Linked DNA regions of Homo sapiens: all the other regions are linked to region 1. The links come from fine-mapping of genetic effects on gene expression. A gene starts in region 1. Each other region holds a variant in brackets. All regions are shown on one strand. Distances are between the middles of the regions. Region 1 holds the start of TMEM250 (transmembrane protein 250). Region 2 overlaps NACC2 (NACC family member 2). Region 3 overlaps NACC2 (NACC family member 2).

Region 1 (7,624 bases):
GACAACCCCAGGTGTTCCCAGCCGCACGGCCAGGGGTCCCGTCCAGCTTGGGGGCTCTGCGTCGGCAGCGAGCACCACATTCGGCCCCAACTTAAAGTCTCCCACAGACCTGGAGCCGCTGGGTCCCTCCTGCGCTTGGCGGCACCACAGGCACCAGCCCAGCAGATGGCGCCAAGCCACTGTCCACAGCGCAGCAGGAGGCCTGACGGGGACAGGGACGGGGACAGGGAGGCTATGGGGACCCCGGCTGGACCTCACACGTCAGGACAAACCCGTGACAAATCCCCAGCACACGGTGGTTCTGGGGTGACCGAGCTGTGGCCAGGCCGGGGGCGCAGGAAGGCGCAGAACCCGGGAGTGGGCAGAGGACCAGAAGCAGCTGCGGCCGGGGAGGAAATCGGTGTCCTGGGAAGCTACTTGCGCTGTGCACGCATGGACTGGGTCACGAGGCCAAAACCCACGGTGGCCACGGCAAGAGAGCCCTGGGCCAGCGGAGACACAGGCCACCAACAGGCGGGGGTGGCTTTGTGTGAGGAGGAAGGGGAGGCAGGAGACAGGGGACAGGGGGTGTGACGGAAGGGGCAGCCCAAGATTGAAGGCGCCTCCCAGAGATGGGGCATTCGAGCTGGGTCCTGAAGGGCGAGTAGGAGCTCGGAAGATGGAGAAGGGACAGAGAGAGAGAAAAGGCAACTGTAAAGAGGTCCAGGCTCCTGCCCTGTACCCTGGTTTCACAGGGAGGTAGGGGAGGCTGGCGGTTCTGGAGGGTCAGCCAGGGAAGGGCGACCCCCACTGTCTTCTGTGAAGGGTGCCAAGGGGTGGCCTCAAGGACAGCGTCCAGCCACGAACACAACCAAGATCAGAACCCACACCCGGGGCACAGACGCTTCCACGTGTGTGGAGCTTACAGATTCTCCAAACCGAAATTCAAGGCAGACAGATGGGACTTGCCCTATAACCCAAGGCACATGAAGCGTTTCCCCGACCATGGCGCCTCTGCTGAAGTCAAGTAATAAACAACTCCGCACTTAAATACTCATTCTCCTGGAAAGGGCAACCAGGGCTCCCCCTTACTGTCCCCTCACCCCAAACCCCAAGTGATATCCCAGCCTTGGAAGCAATGGGCAGCAGCAGCAGGGTTAGCCCGGGAAGCCACCCTCACAGCTAGAGTGGTCATCCCCATCCATGGGCGAGCAGAGACTGGCGGGGCAGGTGGCTGACCAGAGAGTGTGGAACCATCAACACAGACAAGGCGACAAGGGGACAGCTGCACCCTTTGGGAATTCAGGACACAGAACCCTCCTGTAGGGAGAAGCACGTGACTGCGGGCCCAGCCTGAGGTAGTGGCGAGTGGGGGCCCCAGCTTTCCTGGAGATTCTAATACAGGAACATGTTTCAGGACACTCGGGCTGACATGCACTTCTTTTTATTTGTCCAAATCCGGCTTTTTTTTGTTTGTTCATGCTGAAAAAATAAAATCAGAAAGTACAGAAATGTTAAAAAAACAGTAAAATATATTCATCTCTTTAATCCCACCACACATAGATCACCTCTGCAAACATTTATCTGCTTCCAGGACTTCACCCAGAAACGGACACCTAGGAGTACGTCTGTGCTGATGAGGGGTCACACTAGACGTGACTTTGTGAACCACTTTTTTTTTCTTTTTTTTCTTTGTTTTGCGACAGTCTCACTCCGTTGCCCAGGCTGGAGTGCAGTGGCGCAATCTCCGCTCACTGCAAGCTCCGCCTCCTGGGTTCATGCCATTCTCCTGCCTCAGCCTCCCCAGTAGCTGGGACTACAGGCGCCCGCCACCACGTCCAGCTATTTTTTTTTTTTTTTGTAGTTTTTTAGTAGAGACGGGGTTTCACTGTGTTAGCCAGGATGGTCTTGATCTCCTGACCTTGAGATCTGCCCACCTTGGCCTCCCAAAGTGCTGTGATTACAGGCGTGAGCCACCATGACCGGCCTATGAACCACTTTTGACTCAGCCTGGGGGACTGTCTTCTGGGCACAGCTGGCAGTGGGTTCACCTGACCCTGTTTAGCAGCAGAAGCTTCAAGGCCTGTTCCTAATTTTGTATTTTCTTAAGGAAGGTCCCTTAAACCACAGAAGCCTCAGGCCCCACAAAACCTGCATCCGCCCCTGGCTGCAGGACACTCCAGGGTCTGGATGCAGCCAGGGCCAGCCACAGCCTCACTAGCTGACCGCACCTTTAAAAGTACGCGCATTGGCAGCTTTGTTCTGACGGCCACACCCCCCAAGAGACCTCCTTGGCCTTTGGCTTGGGTGATGCTGACCCACATGGAGGGGTCTCTGGCCCAGCAGTCCTGGGACATCCCCTGTATGAAGACCATATGTCTGACATGGCACTTGCCACCCTTTCTGGTCATTTGCCCCTCAGCCTGTCCCTGTCACAAGATGACAGGTGCCTCGAGGGTGGGGGCTCTGCTGTGCCTGTGTCCTTGGTACCCAGAGCAGGGTAGCAGCGTGGGGGCAAGTGCAGGCACGCATGCTGTGCTTCTCTGGGCGGGTGCACAGTGGGAAGCAGGGGGTGTCTAATCCAGAGCTGGAGTCAGGGGACTGCAGGGCAGGGAGGACACGGGAAACCCACAGCAAGGAGCGGGGCTGTGGCTCTGCTCCTCCCATGGCACAGCCACCAGATGGGCCAGGTGTGAGCCCTGATCCATGGACATGCGACCACCCTCACCAGCACGCGAAAAGTCGAGTGACGGGTGACCACCTGCTTTACACGCCACCCTCTATCTGGCCACGGGCGCCATCTCACGGTGCCGGCGTCCCAGCACGAGCCACATGGGAGGGGAGAATTATCTTTGGTTAGTTTGTCTCTAATAGTCCTTAAAACAGAAGACAAAAAATGAAGACAGGCATCAAGATGCTATTATCTCAATGTTTATATATTTAAAATGTTTTATTTATTTTTGTGGAGGCCATGTTGCCAGCCAGGTCGCCCAGGCTAGTCTTAAAACTCCTGGGCACAAGAGATCTGAGGCCGGAATGACAGGTGTGAGCCACCACGCCCAGCCTTATCTCAATAGCTAAACGTGTGGATCTGCCTCACATCTGGAGAGGCAGAGAGGTGAGCCACCAACAGGACTATTGAGGAAGGAAGGAGACCTGTTTATTGATTTTAAGTTTTTTGTAGAGACAGGGGCCTCACTATGTTGCCCAGGCTGGTCTCAAACTTCTGGGGCAAGTGATCCCCCTGCCTTGGCCTCCCAAAGCGGTGGAATGACAGGCGTGAACTAGCGCTTCTTGCCTGACACGTTTCTTTCGGAATATTTGCCGCCAGCCATCGGTAAAGAAAACAGGCTCTTGGCCTTTTTTGCTGTGCTACCTCCTGGTGGCCTTTGCTCGTCCAGATGTTCCTCGAACTCCTGCTCATGTCGGGTAAAGGCGGCTCTCTCTCCTGTGGCGGGGATGGGGCCACAGTGGAGAAGGTAGCTGTGCCAGCCCTCAGGGCGGCCCTGGTCCAAAGGACAGGGGCCCAGGAGCCAGCTCGCCGTCCCGGGAGGCCTGCAGCCAATGACGGGCCTGGTGGGCAGGAGGGCCCAGCCCCCTTGTTCCAGTGCCTTGAATTTGAAGGGCCACCCACTTTACGGTCGCCCCAGGGGCTGCTGACCCTGCCTTCCCCTCCTACCCAGCAGCCACACCCAGGAGCGCTCCCCAACACATTCCTCGCTGGAAACCCCCAGGACAACCGCCAGCCTGTACGAACCAGGCGTGAGGACACTAACACAAGTCCCCTTCCTTCACTGGGGGGCGGCGGGGGGGCGGCCCTGGGGCTGCTGCTGGGCCTGCTCGTGCTCCGGGGCTGTCCCTACTTCGGCTGCCGACGTCGCCGCCGGCCCACCGGGCCTCGCAGCTACACACCCGATCCGTGCCGCCCGGGTCCGCGTGGCGTCAGCCGCCCCCACCCTTCCCCGCCCTCCTGGAGCCTGGGGGGCGCCCTCATTCCCGCCGCCGCCCTGTCCTCCCAGCCCCAGGCCGCGCAGGAGGCCTTCGCACACGGCCCCGCGAGGACCAGACCTGCTCCCGGTCCCTGGGCCGCCCACCCCCGCCGGGAAAGCGGCTTCCTCCGGGGCCCGGCCCCACCCCAGCGACGGCAGCAGCGCGCCGGGTCGCAGACACCTCAGTCCGGGGCCAGGACCACGGTCAAGCCCTCTGCTGGGGCCAAAGGACTGCTCCACGGAAGCGCGCCTGCGCACTGCCTCTCCACGGGATGCGGTAGCGCGTGCGCGGAGGCGCGGCCCAGGAACGGCAAGCGCAGGCGCAGAAGACCAGGCGCGGCACCGAGGGCGTTCGGGGGAGGGAACGCTACGGACTGCTCGCAGCGTGCGCACGCACGCACGCACGCACGCCCTCGGGAAGCGACGAGTCCGGGACGCCCAGCGCGGGCCCGGAGCAGGGGGAAGGGAAGTGCGGCTCGGTCGGCGCGGGTGGAGGGGGCGTGAGGCCGCCCTACGGTGGCCGTCGAGGGACGGCGCTACGGCTCCCACGCTAGGCCAAACGCCTCCGGCGGCCGCGCCCGAGAGCCCCTTCACCTGCAGGGCGACCCCAGCCGGCGACGCGTGAACCACGCCCTCAGCCGCCTTGCCAGCGCCCCCAGCCGCGCGCCCCAGCACCATGCGGCCGCCCTGCGCACGGAGCCCCGAGGGACAGGGGCACCCGCAGGCCCGGCCCCTAGCACCGCCGGCCGGCCCCGAGGTCCGGGACGCCGGCGCCGCCGCGGAGAGGGCACCGGGTGAGCTGCGGTCGGGGACCCGGCCTAGGCGGGGGCCGTCTCCAGGGCAACGCGCGGCGCGGGACCCGGAAGTGGCTCCGGCAGGGGCTCTGCAGCCAGGGGGCCCGGCGCGGCGCGGCGCAGGCCCGGTGCTCACGCGGAGTTGGCCGGGGCCCGTTGCGTCTCTGCGGCCCCGAGGAAACAGTCCTGGGTCCATGGGCCGGGCCGAGCGGGCGTCTGCAGAAACGCAGGGACCCGGATGGAGCCGCGGGCCGCGAGACCCTGCGGGGACACAGCTCCGCCGAGTCGCGTTTGAGTGGCACCGCCATGGCCGGGGTCCCGGCCGGGGCGAGCTCCAGGCCAAGGCCGGCCTTAAATAGGGCCGCTCTGGCCCCTGCACCCCGTGGAGGAGCCGGGCGGAGGGAGAGGGCGAGGTCGGGCCCCTGCGGGCACGGGAGGGTCAGGCGGCCCCGGCCCCTCCCTCCTCCGCCCTGGCCAGGTCCCCACGGCAGGGCCCCAGGCTGAATCTGAAGGCAGGCGAAGCTCTTGGCAACAGTCCCCTGTAATGTTACCAACTTTCCTGCTCAGATTTTATTTCCTGACCTTTGAGTTCATTCCGTCTACAGATTATTTCGGCAAGGTATAAACGGCCTTTACTAGGTGAAGCTGGAGAGCCAAATGCCGCCTCTGCTCTTTGCAGCCCAGTCTGTAAGGGCCGCTGCCAGGCCCCGGGCCGACCCCACTGTGCACGCCAGGCCCAGCCCCTTCCCTCCCACAGCTACCCACAAAGGCAGTGCTATTGGCACCCCCATTGGACAGAGCAGGAGCCGTCTTGGGGTCAGGTGACCTGCCCAAAGTCACTGCTAGGGAAGGACAGTGCCAGGGTTCAGGCCCAGCAAGGTGACCCCACGGCCCCCGAGCCGTCCATCTGGCACCCAGCAGGTTGCTGGAGTCACCTGCTCCCGCCGGGCTCGTTTTCGGTTCACCTGCGAGCCCTGGAGTCCCTTTTCCCGGCCCTGTGGTGGCTTCTTGCAGATGCCATTTAAGGGCTTGCATCAGCCCTGGGTCAGGCAGCCGCAGAAGACCAGGGCAGTAACGGGCAAACTGCCTAAGAGCAGAGTGTGGTCCAGCTAGTGGGGAGCTGCGAGGATCCTGCAGGAAAGAGCCACTCTTGCCCCTTCCCATCCGTTTTGGCATTGACCACTTCCGGGGGCCTCCCCTGGCCACTGTCCCCAAGGCCCCCTTTCCCCAGTGCTGCCCTAGAACAAGCACTTTGGCTTCCCCAGGTGGTGGGCCCCTTGGAAGTATCCTTGGGAGGGTTTGTGGAAAAGAGCCCAGGAGTGCCTGCAGATCCCGCCCTGGACTCCATTTTCCCGTAGTCCTGGTGCTGGAGTTTGTGTCCACTTTCGCCAGCTGATTGCCTGGGGAGGGATCCGCATGGTGTCCTCATACTGACGTGGGTTTTGCGGCTCTCCCCGCAGGCCGACGCCTCCCCCCAGGGTCAGCTGCGGGCTCCCAGGCCTAGGCGCCCATGACCCCTACGCCAACAGCCGCCTGGACACCGCCGCCGCCACTGCGACCTAGCGCCGCCGCCGCCGGGGCCCAATGCCGGTCATGCCCATTCCGCGGCGGGTGCGCTCCTTCCACGGCCCGCACACCACCTGCCTGCATGCGGCCTGCGGGCCCGTGCGCGCCTCCCACCTGGCCCGCACCAAGTACAACAACTTCGACGTGTACATCAAGACGCGCTGGCTGTACGGCTTCATCCGCTTCCTACTCTACTTTAGCTGCAGCCTGTTCACTGCGGCGCTCTGGGGTGCGCTGGCCGCCCTCTTCTGCCTACAGTACCTGGGCGTTCGCGTCCTGCTGCGCTTCCAGCGCAAGCTGTCGGTGCTGCTGCTGCTGCTGGGCCGCCGGCGCGTGGACTTCCGCCTGGTGAACGAGCTGCTCGTCTATGGCATCCACGTCACCATGCTGCTGGTCGGGGGCCTGGGCTGGTGCTTCATGGTCTTCGTGGACATGTGAGGGCCGTGGGTGCGAGCTTGATGTATCGTCCCGGCCTGTGGCTGTGTTCTCTCCATGGGTGGGGTCGGCCAGCGCCTTCCCTTCGCCCATCCCCCAGGCAGTCGCTGCTGCCCGGCGCCCACGGAGAGAAAAGAAAGGGCTGAGACTTCTGTGATGGGGGCGCGGACACCACCCCTAGGCTGGCTTCCTGGACCCACCCTCCCCGTATGCACTCTCAGGGGCAGCGCCCACCTGCCGGTGGCTCCTGCTCACATGTCTTCGGGTCGTACTGCGGGGTGGGCCCTCCGTTCCGCCTCTCTGTGGGCCTCTCTCCAGGACCACAGCTGCCAGGGACTTTAGACATCACCCTGGGAGGCCCCTGGACACAGAGGGCTGTGTGCCCAGGAGCAATTCCGGAGGGGGGCCCTCCTGGCTGCACAGCCCCTTCTGCGTGCCCTGGCCCCAGCCCCAGCCAACGGGACACGGAAGGCTCCCCTCGCTGACACACCACACTGCCACAAAGCTGCTTACTCTGCCCTGGGCCGCCTGAGGCCTGGCACTGCCCGCGGACCACCCTGTGTGTGTCATCCTGAGGGGCTGTGTGGGTCCTGAGTCCCCAGCCAGCCTTCAGGGTCCCCTTGGATTGTGTAGATGCAGTCTAGCGGGGGGCCGGAGAAGGGCTCAGGTGGGAGGGGCCTCAGCAGGCTCCCAGCTCAGGGGCTGGCCTGGGGGGAACCCTGGGAGCCAGGGGCTGACTCCAGCAACACTGGCCTGTCTGCCTGTTCTGGGAGGGCTGTGAGGATGTCTTGCAGATGCTCTGGATTTCTGCGGAGGCACCTCCATTCCTTTCTGGCTTTTTTTGCGGGGGAGGGCTTTGGG
Region 2 (7,624 bases), 73 kb after region 1:
GACCACGTGCCTCCTGCCCCCCACAGATGAGCCCCGCTAGGGCCGCCCCGCGCTGAGAGCCCAGCCCCGCCGCTGCCCGCCCGCCATGTCTCAGATGCTGCACATCGAGATCCCCAACTTCGGGAACACAGTGCTGGGCTGCCTGAACGAGCAGCGCCTGCTGGGCCTCTACTGCGATGTGTCCATCGTGGTCAAGGGCCAGGCCTTCAAGGCCCACCGGGCGGTGCTGGCCGCCAGCAGCCTCTACTTCCGCGACCTGTTCAGCGGCAACAGCAAGAGCGCCTTCGAGCTGCCCGGCTCCGTGCCGCCCGCCTGCTTCCAGCAGATCCTGTCCTTCTGCTACACGGGCAGGCTCACCATGACGGCCAGCGAGCAGCTCGTGGTCATGTACACGGCCGGCTTCCTGCAGATCCAGCACATCGTGGAGCGCGGCACCGACCTCATGTTCAAGGTGAGCTCGCCCCACTGCGACTCGCAGACCGCTGTGATCGAGGACGCCGGCTCCGAGCCCCAGAGCCCCTGCAACCAGCTGCAGCCGGCCGCCGCCGCCGCGGCCCCCTACGTCGTGTCCCCCTCGGTGCCCATCCCGCTGCTGACCCGAGTAAAGCATGAAGCCATGGAGCTGCCGCCGGCCGGCCCAGGCCTGGCCCCCAAGCGCCCGCTGGAGACGGGGCCCCGGGACGGCGTGGCGGTGGCCGCGGGGGCTGCGGTGGCGGCGGGCACAGCCCCTCTCAAACTGCCCCGTGTCTCCTACTACGGGGTGCCCAGCCTGGCCACCCTCATCCCCGGCATCCAGCAGATGCCCTACCCCCAGGGGGAGCGGACCAGTCCAGGCGCCAGCAGCCTGCCCACCACCGACAGCCCCACCTCGTACCACAACGAGGAGGACGAGGAGGACGACGAGGCCTACGACACCATGGTGGAGGAGCAGTACGGCCAGATGTACATCAAGGCCTCCGGCAGCTATGCAGGTAACGCGGCGGGGTGGAGCCCCACACCACCTGGCTGGGAAGCGGGGCCTGCCTGGGACCCGGGTGGCTCAGGAGGCCACTGGGCCGGAGGCCTGCGGGGCCACAGGGGAGCCCCCCACCAAGCCTGGAGGAGGTGGCAGAGCTCTGTTCACCATGGGGTTCAGACTTGGTCCTGGATGAGACAAGAACTCCTAGGAGACTCTGCCAGCCTGTAGGAAGGGTCTTGTCTCCACTGGATAGATGAGGAAACGCAGGTGTCCCGTGGCCCAGGGACCTGCCCCAGGGTTCACGTTCCCCGTCTGTGAAGGGCCTGGCGCCACGCGGTGTACGGGAGGACCCGCCTACTTCCCCTTTAACCTCAGTCTGCGCCTCACCCGGCCAGGTCTAGAGAGTCCCCTGAACCCAGCCCCTTTGCCACCACCTCTCCAGGCCCCGCGCCAGGGATGGGCCAGGAAGCGCCCAGTGTGCTGAGCCGAGTGAGCAGTCGCTCCCCCTCCTCTCCGTTCCTTTCTTTCAAGGAGGGCTGCTCCCCGTCCTGGGCCCCACAAACCCAGGTTGCCCTAATTGGAGATTCCTGGTTACAGCCTCTGGAGACTGTTCAGGCTTTGCTGGGCAGAGTCCCACAGTTGGTGCCCAGGATCGGGTGTCCCTGCAACCTGACTGTGTGTCTGGGCTGGCCACCTGGCTGGTCTGCATGCAGGGCCTGTGTGCAGCGGCCTGGGCCTGGGTGCGGGTGCATAATGCCAGCCACGGGCAGGTGGTGGACCCCGAGGGGCAGTGTAGGGACTCTCTCCACCCCACCACGCATATCCCTGTGCCCTGATGGGACGCCCCCCTGCCCTTCCCCTCCTGCAGTGCTGGTTGGGGGCAGAGGGGGCCAGGACCACCCACCAGCTTGGACCCCTAGGCCAGCTGGGTCCCTGTGCAGCGTCTGTCACCACAGCCGGGACAGCAGGGTAACCACTGCTTTGGCCAACCTGGCTCCCTCTCCGCCTGCAGGAGAAGCCACTGCCTTGCCAGCAGGTGCTCTGGGCTCCGTGGTGTCTTCCTGAGAACTCCGCACTTGGTTTAAATGTATATTGCTGTGTTTGCATGAATCCCACAGAATGCCAGCTCACAGGCCACCTCGATCTGGGCTTCACAGCTTTTGTTTTCTTTTAGTGGTAGGGGGTAGGGCTTGATTTGTCCTGAGACTGGGAGCTTTGCTAGCTACGGAATTGGCCCTTCCTGAGGGCAGAGCACACCGGGCTCCGGCTCACCACAGAGGCCGTACAGGATGTCAGTGCTTGTGGACCCGGCTGGCTGAGGCCTCCGGGGAATCCGCCCCATGTGCGCTTTCCCTCTGCCCCTGCTGACAGCCACCCCAGGGAAGGCAGGGGACCAGCCAGAGGCTGCTGGGGAAGGCTCCCAAGGCCCACCCAGGGCCCCTGTTGGGAAGGAGCTCTGTCCATGGGCTCCAGTCCCAGGGCAGAACCCCAGACAGGCTGGGCACCCCTACAGTCCCTGAGGACATCCCCCATTGATGGCAGCCAGACAGTGCCCTGCCGACAATGGCAGCCAGACAGGGCCCTGCCGACGGGTTGCCGACGGGTCAGGGAGCTGCACCATGGAGATGGAAACAGACCCATCGTATCCAAACATCTTCCCAGGGTCCTCCCTGCACAGCCCCCTGCTGCTCCAATGTGACCTTGGGCCTTGGTGTGTTTGGGGTGATGGGAGCCAGGGCTGGGTGTCGGGTTTGCTGGGAGCACGGTGAAGCCTCGTGACTTGTCCCATGCATCTGCCCCTGGGTGCTGGGTCAGCCTTAAGCCCTCACATCGCCTGGACTTCGTGAGCTAGAAGCCCTCACGCCCACCTGCCTTGATGGGTTTTTGGGGAGTCAGCAGGACCGCAGCCAGGAAGCGGCTCTGTGGAGTCCCGGATGTGTGTTGGGTGGGGACGGGAGGCAGCTGCTCTGGTGAGTCCTTCCCTCCAACTCCCCCGTACTCAGACCACACGAGGTACAGTCCCATTGGGGCTGAGGGGTGGGGACACCCTCAAGGCCATGTTCCTGCAGGGCTTTGTCCAGGCCGCAGGTGCTGCGCGGCATTCTCTGCCTTTGCACGGGTGTCGCTGATGCCAGCGAGGTGGAAAGTGGGCGGCTGGGAGGCCAGGCCTGCTCCCGCCCACCTACCATACAGTTTGGCTCTGGATGCCACAGTCTGGGTTTCTTGTCATGGTTTTTCTGTTCGGCAAGCCCATAAGTGGGGCAGAGAAAGGGGGTGTGTGATTTCTTGGTTAAAATCTAGGTTACTGGCTGTGACGTTGCTGGCGTCGCTGGGTGTGCTGGGTTGGCGGTGCCATGGGGGGAGCAGGTAGAGGGAGGGGCCGTCGCCTGACCTGGAGCTGCCCCTGGGTGCTAGCTCCCCGTGCCCTCCGTGTCCCGGGCTCGTCCGGGGAACGTCCTCACACCCACGCAGGAGGCTGGCTGCTGCCCTCGCCAGGCCGTGCAGGAGTGGAGGCAGGTAGCTGTCTCTCTGGGCTGGTAGGACTAGCGTGTTCTAAGGTCCCTGCAGGCTGAGCTCCTCCTCCTCCCTGGCCTCAGTCTCCCTACCTGTTGAGTGAGAGGCGGGCCTGAGCGATTGCCGAGGGTCCCGGAGCTGCACCTTGGTGTGTGGTAATGCGTGTGCCTGTTCCACCCTCTCTCGC[G/A]TTAAGAACCATGGACAGTTTGTCCTGTAGGGCTGTTCTCCTGTTTTTGAAATAAGTCAAAATATTACAGATAAAGTTAATTGCCTTTTGTCCCCGGCACAGCCCCCGCCCCATGGTCTGTGTGGCCTCACGGCAAGGGTCTCCATGCGGTGTCTGTCTCGTGCCTCTCCTCCCTCCCTCCAGGTCCCGCGTCACCACCCGTCAGAAGGAGCCGCCACGTTTGATTTCTCCAGTGCCTTATCAAAGGACATTCAGGTTGTTTTCAGTTTGTTGCAGTCAGGAGCAAAGCTGCGAGAAGGCGCCATGCATGGGTGTGTGAGGTTGATGGGGCCGAGTTCAAGCCCCCCCACCCGCAGCGAGGCAGGCCCCGTCTCGGTCCCCATCAGGTGGACGCTGGCTCGGGACGCTCAGTGCTTCCCACCCACCAGCCCTCATCTCTGCAGCAGTCACTTCAGGGCGCCCTCCTGGGCCTTAAGCCATCACCCCTGCGGCAGGCAGGGACCTTCCTCCTGGCCCTGTGGCCGGCAGCCTCGGGAGACCCCGGAGCAAGATGAGCTGGGGGTGGGGTGCACCCAGGGGTGAAAGAAAAACATCGTATCCACCGGAAGGGAAACGCCCAGTGCAGTTCCCCTCTGGCTGATGGGGAAACCTCCCAGAGGGTGAGGCGCAGGCGTCCCTGCCTGGCGTTGTCAGGGGCCTTGCATCTGAGCTAGAGATTGCGAAATGCCTGCCTCCGCCTCCCCTGCACCCCCATCCCTTCCCGCCCCACCACGGGGGTGAGTCAGGGGCCAGCCCCTCCAGAGAGCAGGAGGTGGGCCGGGCAGAGGGAGCCTGTGCCTTGGGACTTGGTGGTGCTGTGGCCTGAGCGGGAGCCCCTTTCCTCTTCGGGCCCTCTTCCTCGCGTACCCGCCTTCATTCCCCCAGGGTGCGGCTGCATTCCCGCTGGGGCTCAGGGCTCGGGGGCATCTGAACGTCCAGCAGGGACACCGGGAGCCGGGGCTTCCCCGGCAAGGCAGCCGGCCGGGTGGGCAGCGCCAGCTGGGGCTGGGCTTGGGGTGGGGGCTCCCCAGCTGCGCTCAGGGGTCTGTTCCCGTGGTCTCCTTGGCACATCTGGATCCACAGGTCCCTGCAACAGCCGAGACGGTCATGGCAGCTGCTTTTACCCCAGGGCAGATGACAGCACGGGGCCCTGACGGTTATTTCATTGAGTGGGGGTGGCCGTTGTCACCCAAGCTGAGGACGGGCACCTGTGGCATGGCAGACCGCTGAGGTCGAGGGACAGGGAAATGGAGCTCGCAGAGGGAAGGGGTAGTGCCATGCTGGGGCTTCTCTCCTGTCCTCTGAAGGGGAGGGGGCTGCCCGGACCTGCGCCCACACCCCCTCCTGTGCCTGATGGGGCTCGCCCGGCCATCCCTTTCATGCCCTCAGCAGTGGCTTCGGGCGGGCAGATGTTTAATTGCAGCTGGCAGATGTCACTCTGTGTGGCTGGCAGAGACAAAGCCACGCCTGGGTATTGACACCAGCTGCACACTTCCACGGTAACCCTTTCCCAGCAGGGGACAGCTCTGGCCACAGGGCCCGTGGGCCCGTGACGGTAACCCTTTCCTGGCAGGGGACAGCTCTGGCCACAGGGCCTGTGGGCCCGTGAGTGGGTGGCCCTGTGCATGTCCGCTTCCCCTTCCCTTCTGGCTCCCTCCACCCCCACCTCTCTGGGGTCCACCCGGTGTCCCCTGTGTGCCTCTCTGCAGGGCATGGGGGTCAGGCACCCATCCCTAAGCTGGGTACCCACTTCCATGGGGCGGTCTGAACTCAGGCAAAACAGGCAAAGTTGGAACTGCTCAGGGTCCAGGAGACCCTCCCATCCAGCCTCAGACCAGCTGCCCACATCCTGGACCCTGGACAGATGCCACTGGGTGTGGGTCGTGGCACACAGCAGCACATCTGTCCTGGCTCTGCCCATCAGGAGAGGCCTGCTGCGGGCCCCACCCTTTTCAGGGTGACCTGCAAGGTCAGCACTGGCCCCGTCCATCCCCCGGCTGAACACCCAGGCTTGGGTGGGGTGCTCCCGGCCCTGGGCCACAGAACCCAGGTGGCCAGGGCTGCTGGCTAGGGTGGTCTCCGTTGCAGCCACTCACCCCCCACCATTACCCATCCGGAAGGTACACCTGCCCGGTCGGGGAGCAGGGCTGTATGTCCGAGGCCGCTCCCACCAGCAGCTCAAAACTCAGGACTGTTGTTTGGGGTTCCCAGAGAGAAGCAAGAAGAGGGGCTGAACTTGGGGTTGCTGAGTATGCAAATCGCACCATCGTCCCCACTCTGCTGCCTTGTGGCCTGGGACGGGGGCGTCCGCACTGTTAGAGCCCCCCCACCACCACCCAGGGAGCAGAGGGTGCCTTCATCTCTGGCCTGGATAGGGTGGGGCCCAAGAGGAGGCCCCAAGCAGAGATGGCCAGACCGGGGAGTGCCGTTGGCTGCAGGGGTCGGGGGTGAAGGGTTCCTTCTGCTTTGAAGGGCCAATACCCCTGCAACTCAGGCCTTCCGAGGAGCCGAGACCACAGTCATGTGCCGCTATGCCCAGCTAATTTTGTAATTATTTATAGAGACAGGGTCTCGCTATATTGTCCAGGTGGCCTCGAATTCCTGGGCTCAAGAAATCCTCCCGCCTCAGCCTCCCAAAAAGCTGCGATTACAGGTGGGAGCACCGCACTGGACCATCTGTCTGCTTTCATCAGCATCCTGTAGATATGGTGCATCTGTGGTGTGGCCCGTCTAGGCCATTGTTCTCTCCTCCCCGCCTTTTTTGCTTGCTAAAGTATTTGTATTGGCCAGGCGTGGTGGCTCACCCCTGTAATCCCAGCACTTTGGGAGGCTGAGGTGGGCAGATCTCTTAAGGTCAGGAATTTGAGAGCTGGCTGGCCAACATGGCGAAACCCCTTCTCTACTGAAAATACAAAAATTAGCCGGGTGTGGTGATGCACGCTTGTAGTCCCAGCTACTCTGGAGGCTGAGGCAGGAGGATCACTTGAACAAGGAGGCAGAGGCTGCAGTGAGCTGAGATTGCGCCACTGCACTCCAGCCTGGTGACAGAGCGAGACCCTGTCCCCAACCAAAAAACAAAAACCAAAAGTATTTGTATCCTTTACAAAGTGTGCCATCAGTGAGTTCACTGTGCAATCAAGTGCAATGTTGCAATCAACATACAGAACAGTTCCCTCCTGTAGAATGTTACCCTGGGGTTCTTTGCACAGAGTCGTCTACCCCATCCTGGCCCCACGGGACCACCACCCTGCTGCCTCCTACTGCCCTTTTGCTTCTCATAGGATCCCTGTGCGTGAGACCGTGCAGCGGTAGATCCTGTATATTTCCGTGTGTCATGGTTTCTGTTCGTCATGTGGTTGAACGCATGAGGCCAAGGGGCTGCATGAGGCCGCACTCCCACCAGCAGCCCGTGAGAGCAGCAGGCGCCCCACGGCCTTACGGCAGCCGGGGTTCTCTGTCAGCCTTGACGTTTCAGCCCTTCCTCGTGGGTGGAATATCAGTGACATCCCATTGTAGTTTCTATTTGCATTTCCCTGATGGTCAGTAACGCTGAGCACGTTTCACAGGTTGAATAAGCCGTACTTTATAACTTTTATTGTGACGTATTTCTTCAGATCTTTTGTCCATTTTTTAAAAATTAGATTTTAAGAGTTCCCTATATAATTTGCAAGTAAGTTCACATATGGGTATTGCGGGCATTCTCTCCTAGTCTGACCTGCCTTTTCATTATTGTAATGGTGACTCTCAAAGACCAGAAGTTTTAAATTTTGATGAAGATCAATTTATTAAAGTTGTATTTTACGGCTAGTGCTTTTTGTAGCCTGTTCGAGAAATCCTTGTCTACCTAAAATTCTGTGTTCTGTGTGTGTGTGTCTGTGTGTGAATTCCTGCCTATCCAGGATGGGGCAACACTGTGTCTGTGTGTC
Region 3 (7,624 bases), 42 kb after region 1:
TGGGTGTGTGTCACGGCCCCCCGTCTCCACGTGTCTGGAGAGGAGGAGACCCCCAGCTAACCCACACTCCACGACCTCCAAATCAGATAAGCAAGAGCTCCGTGGAGTGTCCTTCCTGGGCTGATTCTGTGCGGTCTGTGGGGTGGGGGATGGTGTGCTGGCAGTAGCGTTGGAGTTTTTTTATTGGAGCAGGGTAGTGGGGAGATGGAGTTTCGCTGTTGTTACCCAGGCTGGAGTGCAGTGGCACGATCTCAGCACACAACCTCTGCCTCCCAGGTTGAAGCAATTCTCCTGTCTCAGCCTCCCGAGTAGCTGGGATTGCAGGCGTGCGCCACCACGCCCAGCTAATTTTGTATTTTTAATAGAGACGTTTTTAATACCCCACTGCAGTGGGCTGCTGGGCGGATTTTCCTAGAACCTGGGTTGGGTTTTGGATGCCCTGAGAGGTGGCATCCCATGTAGGGGCAGCGAAGGGGCCTGGGCTCAGAGAAGGAGAGCACAGAGATGGGTGCGGGGGCCCTGCTGGGATGAGGCTGTACAGGCTGGGGGTGCAGTACCGCTCTGGCACCATCCCTGGTGTGGCGTGGCTACAGGGCCCTGCCAGGAGGCCCTTGTGGTCAAACCGTTGGCTTTTGTGGGGCACAGTGGCATGGGCTTTGGCTGGCAGCCACGCCCGGGGTAGGGACTGTGTGTCTCTGCCAGCTGGGCCATGACTACAGTGGGTGGCCAAGGGTGTGGGCTATCAGGTCAGCCCCAGGCCTGGCCCAGGCAGCCCCATGGCCAGCAGAGCCCATCTGTAGCTCTCCAGGAGGGCCGCCTCTCCCTGGGGAACAGCTCCAAAAGCTTTCCTTGGGGAACAGGTGGCAGGGCTAGCGGCTCCTTCCACAGCACGGCTGTGGCCTGGCCCCTGGGGCCTTGGGGTCCTGGAAAGTTGAGACTTCCCCGGCTGCTGCCTGTCCTGGTGGCCTGAAATCTTACAGGCTTCAAGATTTCGTAACTTTCCTATTCCTAGTCGCAGAATGGGTAGTGGGAGGCCTGAGACCCATCTGGCTTCTGCAGCCACGCTCCAGGGCTCTGGTGACCCTGGAGTGCATTCGGGGAGTGCCGGCCACGGCAGGGCCCCAGGAAGGAGCTCTGGGGGGCCTCTGGCCTCTCTTCTGCCCTCGGTTGAGGGCCAAGTGGCCTTTCCACTCAGTGAGTCAGCCTGTTCCTTCGTGTCATTCTCAGCAGGCCATGGGGTGCCCATGCCTGCGGGTGAGGAGGGGCTTGCTGCCCCACCTGCTGGCGTCCAGCCTGTACAGCCTGGGGCCTGTCTGGAGATCCTGGTTCCTTGGCTGCACCTGCAGGGCCCCCGGAGTCCACGCATTGGCTTCTGCAGTTGGCATCCTGTGCTTGTAGGAGTGTCTCCTGCCTGGAAGCCAGAGGATGGCACCCCGTTCCATCAGGCCTGAAGGTGGCTGGGTGCCAGGCAGCCCTTCCTGGGTGTGGGACTCTGGGCAAGTGCCCTGCCTCTCCCTGGTCTCCCCCTCAGCTCAGAGAGTGCAGTTCCCACCCTGGGAGGATGTCTGCACCTTGCAGCCTCTTCAGCCCTTAGCCCTCTTGGCAAGAGCTCAAGCTTTCTCTTGTTAAGGACGGGACGCACAGACATACGTGAGTAGATTTCAGGTTACGTGCCCTAAACTAATACCGTGTGCACTTAAAAAAAAAAAAAAGAAGAAGCTATGATTGAAGTCAAATTAACATATTTACCTTCAGTGCTCCCTCGGGAACCGTTAGGGAATCGGAGAGGGGCGGCGGCGGCGCGGCATCATGCCGGCGACGGTGCTAAGGGCATCTGCTCCCCGTGGGGATGGGTGTGTGCTCCTGAGTTTGCCTTGGCTTCCCCTGCTTACCCACAAGGTCGCCTGGACAAGGGGCGAGAGGCCCTGCCCTGAGAGCCTCAGTTCCTGGAGGGGACCACGCTGGGGGTGCTTACTGGGGACCAGGATGCGGCGGTGGCTGTGGTGCCACACTCGTGATGACAGCCCTGCCTGAGGGGCTCGCTTTGCTCAGCTCTGATGTGGCTGAGATTCAGGTGCCTGACCTGTCCCCCAGCCATTCCCACGCCCCTTTCTGTCCCGATGTCGGGGCTGGGCTGGCCCCTCTTGCCTCGCACAGGTTTATGGCCTAGGAGTACATTCCCCTGGAGTCCCGTCTATGCATCCAGGTACGGTTCCAGGGCCAGTGAGCGGGCCACGTCCCACCTCCAAGCCTCAGTTTTCTCATCTGTACAGTAGGGTAATGGTATTTCTCCTGCGCTTACTTTAAGGATTAAATGGAAAAACCTGTATTAAGGATTGCCATTTAAAGATTAAATGGAAAAGCCTGGGCCTTTAGTTCCTGAAATGAGAGAGCCAGAATTATTTGGAGAACCTGCCCCCAGATGTGCCTGTCCCCCTCATGAATTCTGCATTCCGAGGGACTGAGCTTCGTGGAATTCTGGCGTCTTCTGGCCTGCAGGCGAGTGGGGCTGGCCACAAGGTTGCGGGGGGTGGGGGTCCTGGGGACCCCTGCCAGGTGGTGGGTATGCACCCGGCCTTGGGGATGAGGGTTTGAGTGGGTGCCTGGTCCATCCCACTCTCTACCACTGTGTCTGTAAACTCGTGCATGGATTGTTTAAAGATAGTACGGCAAACCTCGTGATTATAAAAGTATGATTGGGCCGGACGCGGTGGCTCATGCCTATAATCCCAGCACTTTGGGAGGCCGAGGCGGGTGGATCACGAGGTCAGGAGTTTGAGACCAGCCTGGCTAACATGGTGAAACCCCGTCTCTACTAAAAAGAAGTACAAAAAAACCCAAAACAAAACTATGATTGGACTGATATTATTTACGTGGTTTTCACTCCCAAAGGCACACCTTTGCGTATAAAGCACAAGTCAGTATTCATCACTGATTCCTTATTCACTTTTCAAACTACTTTCACTTACCTTTTATTACTTTATAAATAATTTTAAGCACAATTTTGTTGCCCCCTTGCCTGCTCCCCGGTGTGGGGGTGGCCAGAGTCCTTGGGGTCCCCTCGCATTTCCCGGGTGACCACACAGCTGCCCCCTGCTCAGGTGTCACCGCCTGGGGACCTTCTCCTCTGTGAAGGGCCTGTTCTGGGCTCTTGCCCCTCCCTCCTCTGTGCGTTTCCCTTTTCTTGATGGATTTGTAGAATTTGTAGAATTCTTTCCATACTCTGACCACACGCCCTTTGCTGAAGATACATATGTTGCAAAGGTCTGTCCTTCTC[G/A]GCTTGTTTTTTCTCTTAGTGTTGGTCTTTATTTTTCAATATTTTAATGAAGCACGACTTATCAACAATGTCCTTTGTGCCCTGTTAGGGTTTTTGTTGTTTGTTTGTTTGTTTTGCCAAAGGCCATGTTTCTCTTCTGCTTTTTTTGTTTTGTTTTGTTTTTTGAGACGGAGTCTTGCTCTGTCGCCCAGGCTGGAGTGCAATGGCGCAATCTTGGCTCACTGCAACCTCCACCTCCGGGTTCAAGCAATTCTCCTGCCTCAGCCTCCCAAGTGGCTGGGACTACAGGCGCCCGCCACCACGCCCAGCTAATTTTTGTTTGTTTTTTTCTCTGTCACCCAGGCTGGAGTGTAGTGGCGCAATCTCGGCTCACTGCAACCTCCACCTCCGGGTTCAAGCGATTCTCCTGCCTCAGCCTCCCAAGTGGCTGGGACTACAGGCGCCCGCCACCACACCCGGCTATTTTATTTATTTATTTATTTATTTTTGAGACAGAGTCTCGCTCTGTCGCCCAGGCTGGAGTGCAGTGGCGCGATCTCGGCTCACTGCAGGCCCTGCCTCCTGGGTTCACGCCATTCTCCGCCTAGTCCCAAGTAGCTGGGACTACAGGCGCCCGCCACCACGCCCGGCTAATTTTTTTTGTATTTTTAGTAGAGAAGGGGTTTCACCGTGTTAGCCAGGATGGTCTCGATCTCCTGACCTCATGATCCACCCACCTCAGCCTCCCAAAGTGCTGAGATTACAGGCATGAGCCACCACCAGGCCAATACATTTTTTAAAAATTGTAGTCAAATATACACAACATGAAATTCACCATTTTAACCATTTTTTAAGCGCACAGTTCAGTGGCAGTAAGAACATTCCCATGGCTGTCAACCCTCACCTCTGTTTGCAGAACGTTTTCATCATCCCTGACCGAAACTGCACCCATTGAACACCAACTCCCCTCCGCAGTCCCCCAGCCCCTGGAAACCTCCGTTCTGCTTCCTGTCTCTGAACTGTCCTGCTCTGTGCCCGCGTGTGAGTGGAACCCCGTGGCGTTGTCTGTGTGTGCCTGGTGGCTTTCACTCGGCATAGTGTCTTTGAGGTTCACCGGGCTGGGGGGTGCATCAGAATTTCATTTCATTTTTGTCGTGGTATGGGCAGGAAACCTGGCTCAGAGAACATTTGAGGAACTGGGTGTTTAGAGTCACTGAGGAGAGGAGGCTGGATAGATTGTTGGGTTAGTTACAGCACTTCTTCGAGTTCCGCAGGGCCGGGAAACGCTGCCCCTTGGGGTTCTCTTTGCTACTGGATGGAAATCATTTGCTTTTCTTTTGGTTGCATATAGGAGACTTAGGATGTCACGGGGTATGGGGTGTCATCACTACTGAGTTGCAAATCAGGCAGAGGCCGCGAAGGGTGCCTGTTTACTTTATTTCCAAGTTTTCGATGACTGTTCTTTGCAGGATCTCTTCGTGACCACACGTAACCTTCATGCAGGGCTTTGAGAAGCGGGTGTCTCGGAGTTTTGTCACAGATGCAGCAGAGGAGTGGGCAGCAGCCCCAGGGCCACAGGCACTGAGCACATGGAGGGCTGCGGGGCTGCTCCTGGGCGCTTTGTAGGAAAGCCTGGGTTCCGTTTTCAGCAGCCTCTCACTCCAGAGGAGATGACTTTGCTCTTATTGAATCTTGTGTCCCGAGCCTCAGAGCCCAAACCCAAGACCCCTGTCTCTGAGGTTTCACCGACAGGGCCTGTGGGTGTTGGGTGGGTCTCCTCCCCTGGGCGCAGTCTGCACGGGGGTGTCCTCCCCGCGTGTGGAAGACCGGGCACAGGGAGCTCAGGACAGCATCAGCACAGGTTTCCTGAGGGGGCCCTGCAGGCTCTGCTCCCGCAGGACCTGCGACCCCGAACCCTGAATGTGGGCCTATGCCCGATAAAAGAAGATGCGTCCTCAGGCACGACAGCCTGGGCTTGGCCCCAGCTGCGCGATCTGTTTGAGAAACTGTACCGCGATGTAGGAGACGGCAGGTTCACACGGAGCCGCTGCCGACGTCTACGAAAGGGAAACAGGCTCGGGGAGACATTCGCCTCCGAGTTCCAAGCCCGGGGAGAGTGGACACCCTGTAATGAGCGCTTCAGTCAGTTCGCAGCAGCCAGCCTCGGGGGAGCTAGGGAGGGCTTTCCCCCCAAGTATCCCAGCCAGGCGGCCGCAGCCAGCTCTCCCTCATCCCGGTCAGTGCCGGACTGGACCAGAATGTGTCCTGGAGTCCTGGCCACCTCCCTGGTGCCATGTGACAGCTGTCTGAGGCCAAGTCTGTGTGTGGGGGGCGTTGCAGCCTGCTGCACCCACACCTGGGGCTCCCCACTTCCTGGCCTGCCGCTTTGAGGGAGCAGAAGCCGCCATTGAGGACAAGGTGGAATCGGCTCATTTCACGCAGAACCAAGAGCGTCGGCCTGGAGGAGGTCACGTCCTCTACTGGGCCTCACGTCACTGTTTCGTGAGGATCCGATTGCTGTTCCCCCAGCCCCATACGCGACAGTGAGTGGGGGACAGAGCTCCCGGGCTCCCAGAAGGAGGCCGTGCGAGAACCCATTCCCGCCAGCATCCCCCGGCCCTGCCGACTCCGCCTCGGCTGGGAAGGCCACGCTTCCTGCCGCTCTGTGTGAGGTGTAGACGCCGAGGCTGAGTGATACATCCCCGAGCCCCGCAGGTGAGCTGGGAACAGAATGTGACCACCGACATGGGCCCTCTGGGAGTCACAGGGGATGGTCGTTCGGAAGGTCCAGCTTCATCTGTCGGTGCAGTTTAGGGTGTGACTTGGTGGAGGCACGGTCAGTATTGAGTCAATGTTGAACCAGAGATAGGTTCCTTGAGGAAGGCAGGCAGCCTTGCTGTGACAGAACGAGGAATGGTTTTGACCTGTCCGTCTGTGTTAATTGAAGGGATGATACATAATTTTAAATAACCTCAGAAATTATTAACATCTTTATAAAGAACCTTAATGTTTCTGGAATGAAGAACTTTGTTTTCTTTTTCTTCTTTTTTCTTTTTTTTTTTGAGACGGAGTCTTGCTCTGTCGCCCGGGCTGGAGTGCAGTGGCACAACCTCGGCTCACTGCAAGCTCCGCCTCCCGGGTTCACTCCATTCTCCTGCCTCAGCCTCCCGAGTAGCTGGGACTACAGGCGCCCACCACCATGCCCGGCTAATTTTTTTGTATTTTATTAGTAGAGACGGGGTTTCACCGTGTTAGCCAGGATGGTCTGGATCTCCTGACCTCGTGATCTGCCCTCCTCGGCCTCCCAAAGTGCTGGGATTACAGGCATGAGCCACCGCGCCTGGCCATGCCTGGCTAATTTTTTAACAAATTATTTGTGGAGACTATAATCTTACCATCTCTCCTGGTCTCTCACTCCTGGACTCAAGTGATCCTTCTGCTTCAGCCTCCCAAAGTGCTGGGATTCCAGGCATGAGCCACTGTGCCCGGCCAAGATCTTAATTTTTTTAAAAAAATAGTCAAGGACATGACGGAGTCTGTGCAAATCCCTGTTGGTTACTTCGGTGAGAGCCAGGGTCTGCTTTCAGGGCAGAGGGAAGGATCACCGCTTACTGCTGACCCTGCTTCTGGGCAGACCAGATACTCCAAGACCAGGCAGCATTTTAGCAGACAGAACACCAAATCCTGCTTGGACGCAAATGCAGTACTTGGCAGTAGAGGATGCATAAGCACCTTTAAAACAATTAGGAATAGACCCATTGAAACTGAGCAAATTGTGCCAAAATTGTAGCACACACGCAGCTGCTTTTCATACTCCTTATTTCCAGGTATTATGAACCGAGGGAAATCAAGTCGACTTTCTGCAAACATTCTTGGGTTGTCCATACATCCACTGGAGTCTTTTGTCTTTTCCTGTTCTCTTTGGCATTCGAGACCAATTGTGCATTTCACTTTGAGACAAGCGCCTCTTCTCCCCTGATGGGCAGGACTATACTCTGATACAGCTGGATCCACGCTCACACCCCCTGTCCACTGCAGCTCCTACTGGGGTCCTCATTTTTTATTTTTTATTAAAAATTTTTTTTTTGAGACAGTCTTGCTCTGTCACCCAGGCTGGAGTGCAGCGGTAAGACCACAGCTCACTGCAGCCTTCACCTCCTAGGCTCAAGCGATCCTCCCACCTCAGTCTCCCAAGTAGCTGGGACCACAGGTGCGCTCCACCATGCCCAGCTAGTTTATTTTTATTTTTTGTACAGACAGAGTCTCCCTATGTTGCCTAGGCTGGTTTTGGACTCTTGGGCTCAAGTGATCCTCCCACCCCAGCCTCCCGTGTAGCTGAGACTACAAGCACGTGCCACCATACCCGGC

What was found. PIP is the estimated chance that this variant, and not a neighbour inherited with it, causes the effect.
Region 2: its variant is the best candidate, but not a certain one, in a credible set for the expression of TMEM250 in whole blood (TOPMed, PIP 0.85).
Region 3: its variant is the best candidate, but not a certain one, in a credible set for the expression of TMEM250 in whole blood (TOPMed, PIP 0.63).

What each region holds. Positions count from the first base shown.
Region 1 is chr9:136,115,623-136,123,246 of GRCh38, reverse strand. It overlaps TMEM250 (transmembrane protein 250), which reads left to right and starts at 4,372. Exons shown (of 2, transcript NM_152833.3): 1 at 4,372-4,762; 2 at 6,223-7,624. The coding sequence starts at 6,347. The coding sequence ends at 6,766. It overlaps LOC107987142 (a long non-coding RNA gene), which reads right to left and starts at 5,455. Exons shown (of 2, transcript NR_165242.1): 1 at 5,345-5,455; 2 at 1-1,461. RefSeq lists enhancers at 2,970-3,544, 3,545-4,121, 5,275-5,850, 5,851-6,426 and silencers at 3,789-4,178, 4,209-5,258.
Region 2 is chr9:136,042,983-136,050,606 of GRCh38, reverse strand. It overlaps NACC2 (NACC family member 2), which reads left to right. Exons shown (of 6, transcript NM_144653.5): 2 at 27-971. The coding sequence starts at 86. Among named protein-coding and RNA genes, the nearest start is that of NACC2, 48 kb to the left of the region's middle. The variant G/A (reference allele first, on the strand shown) is at 3,660.
Region 3 is chr9:136,073,147-136,080,770 of GRCh38, reverse strand. All of the region lies in intron 1 of NACC2 (NACC family member 2), which reads left to right. Among named protein-coding and RNA genes, the nearest start is that of NACC2, 18 kb to the left of the region's middle. RefSeq lists enhancers at 1-32, 5,385-6,135. The variant G/A (reference allele first, on the strand shown) is at 3,278.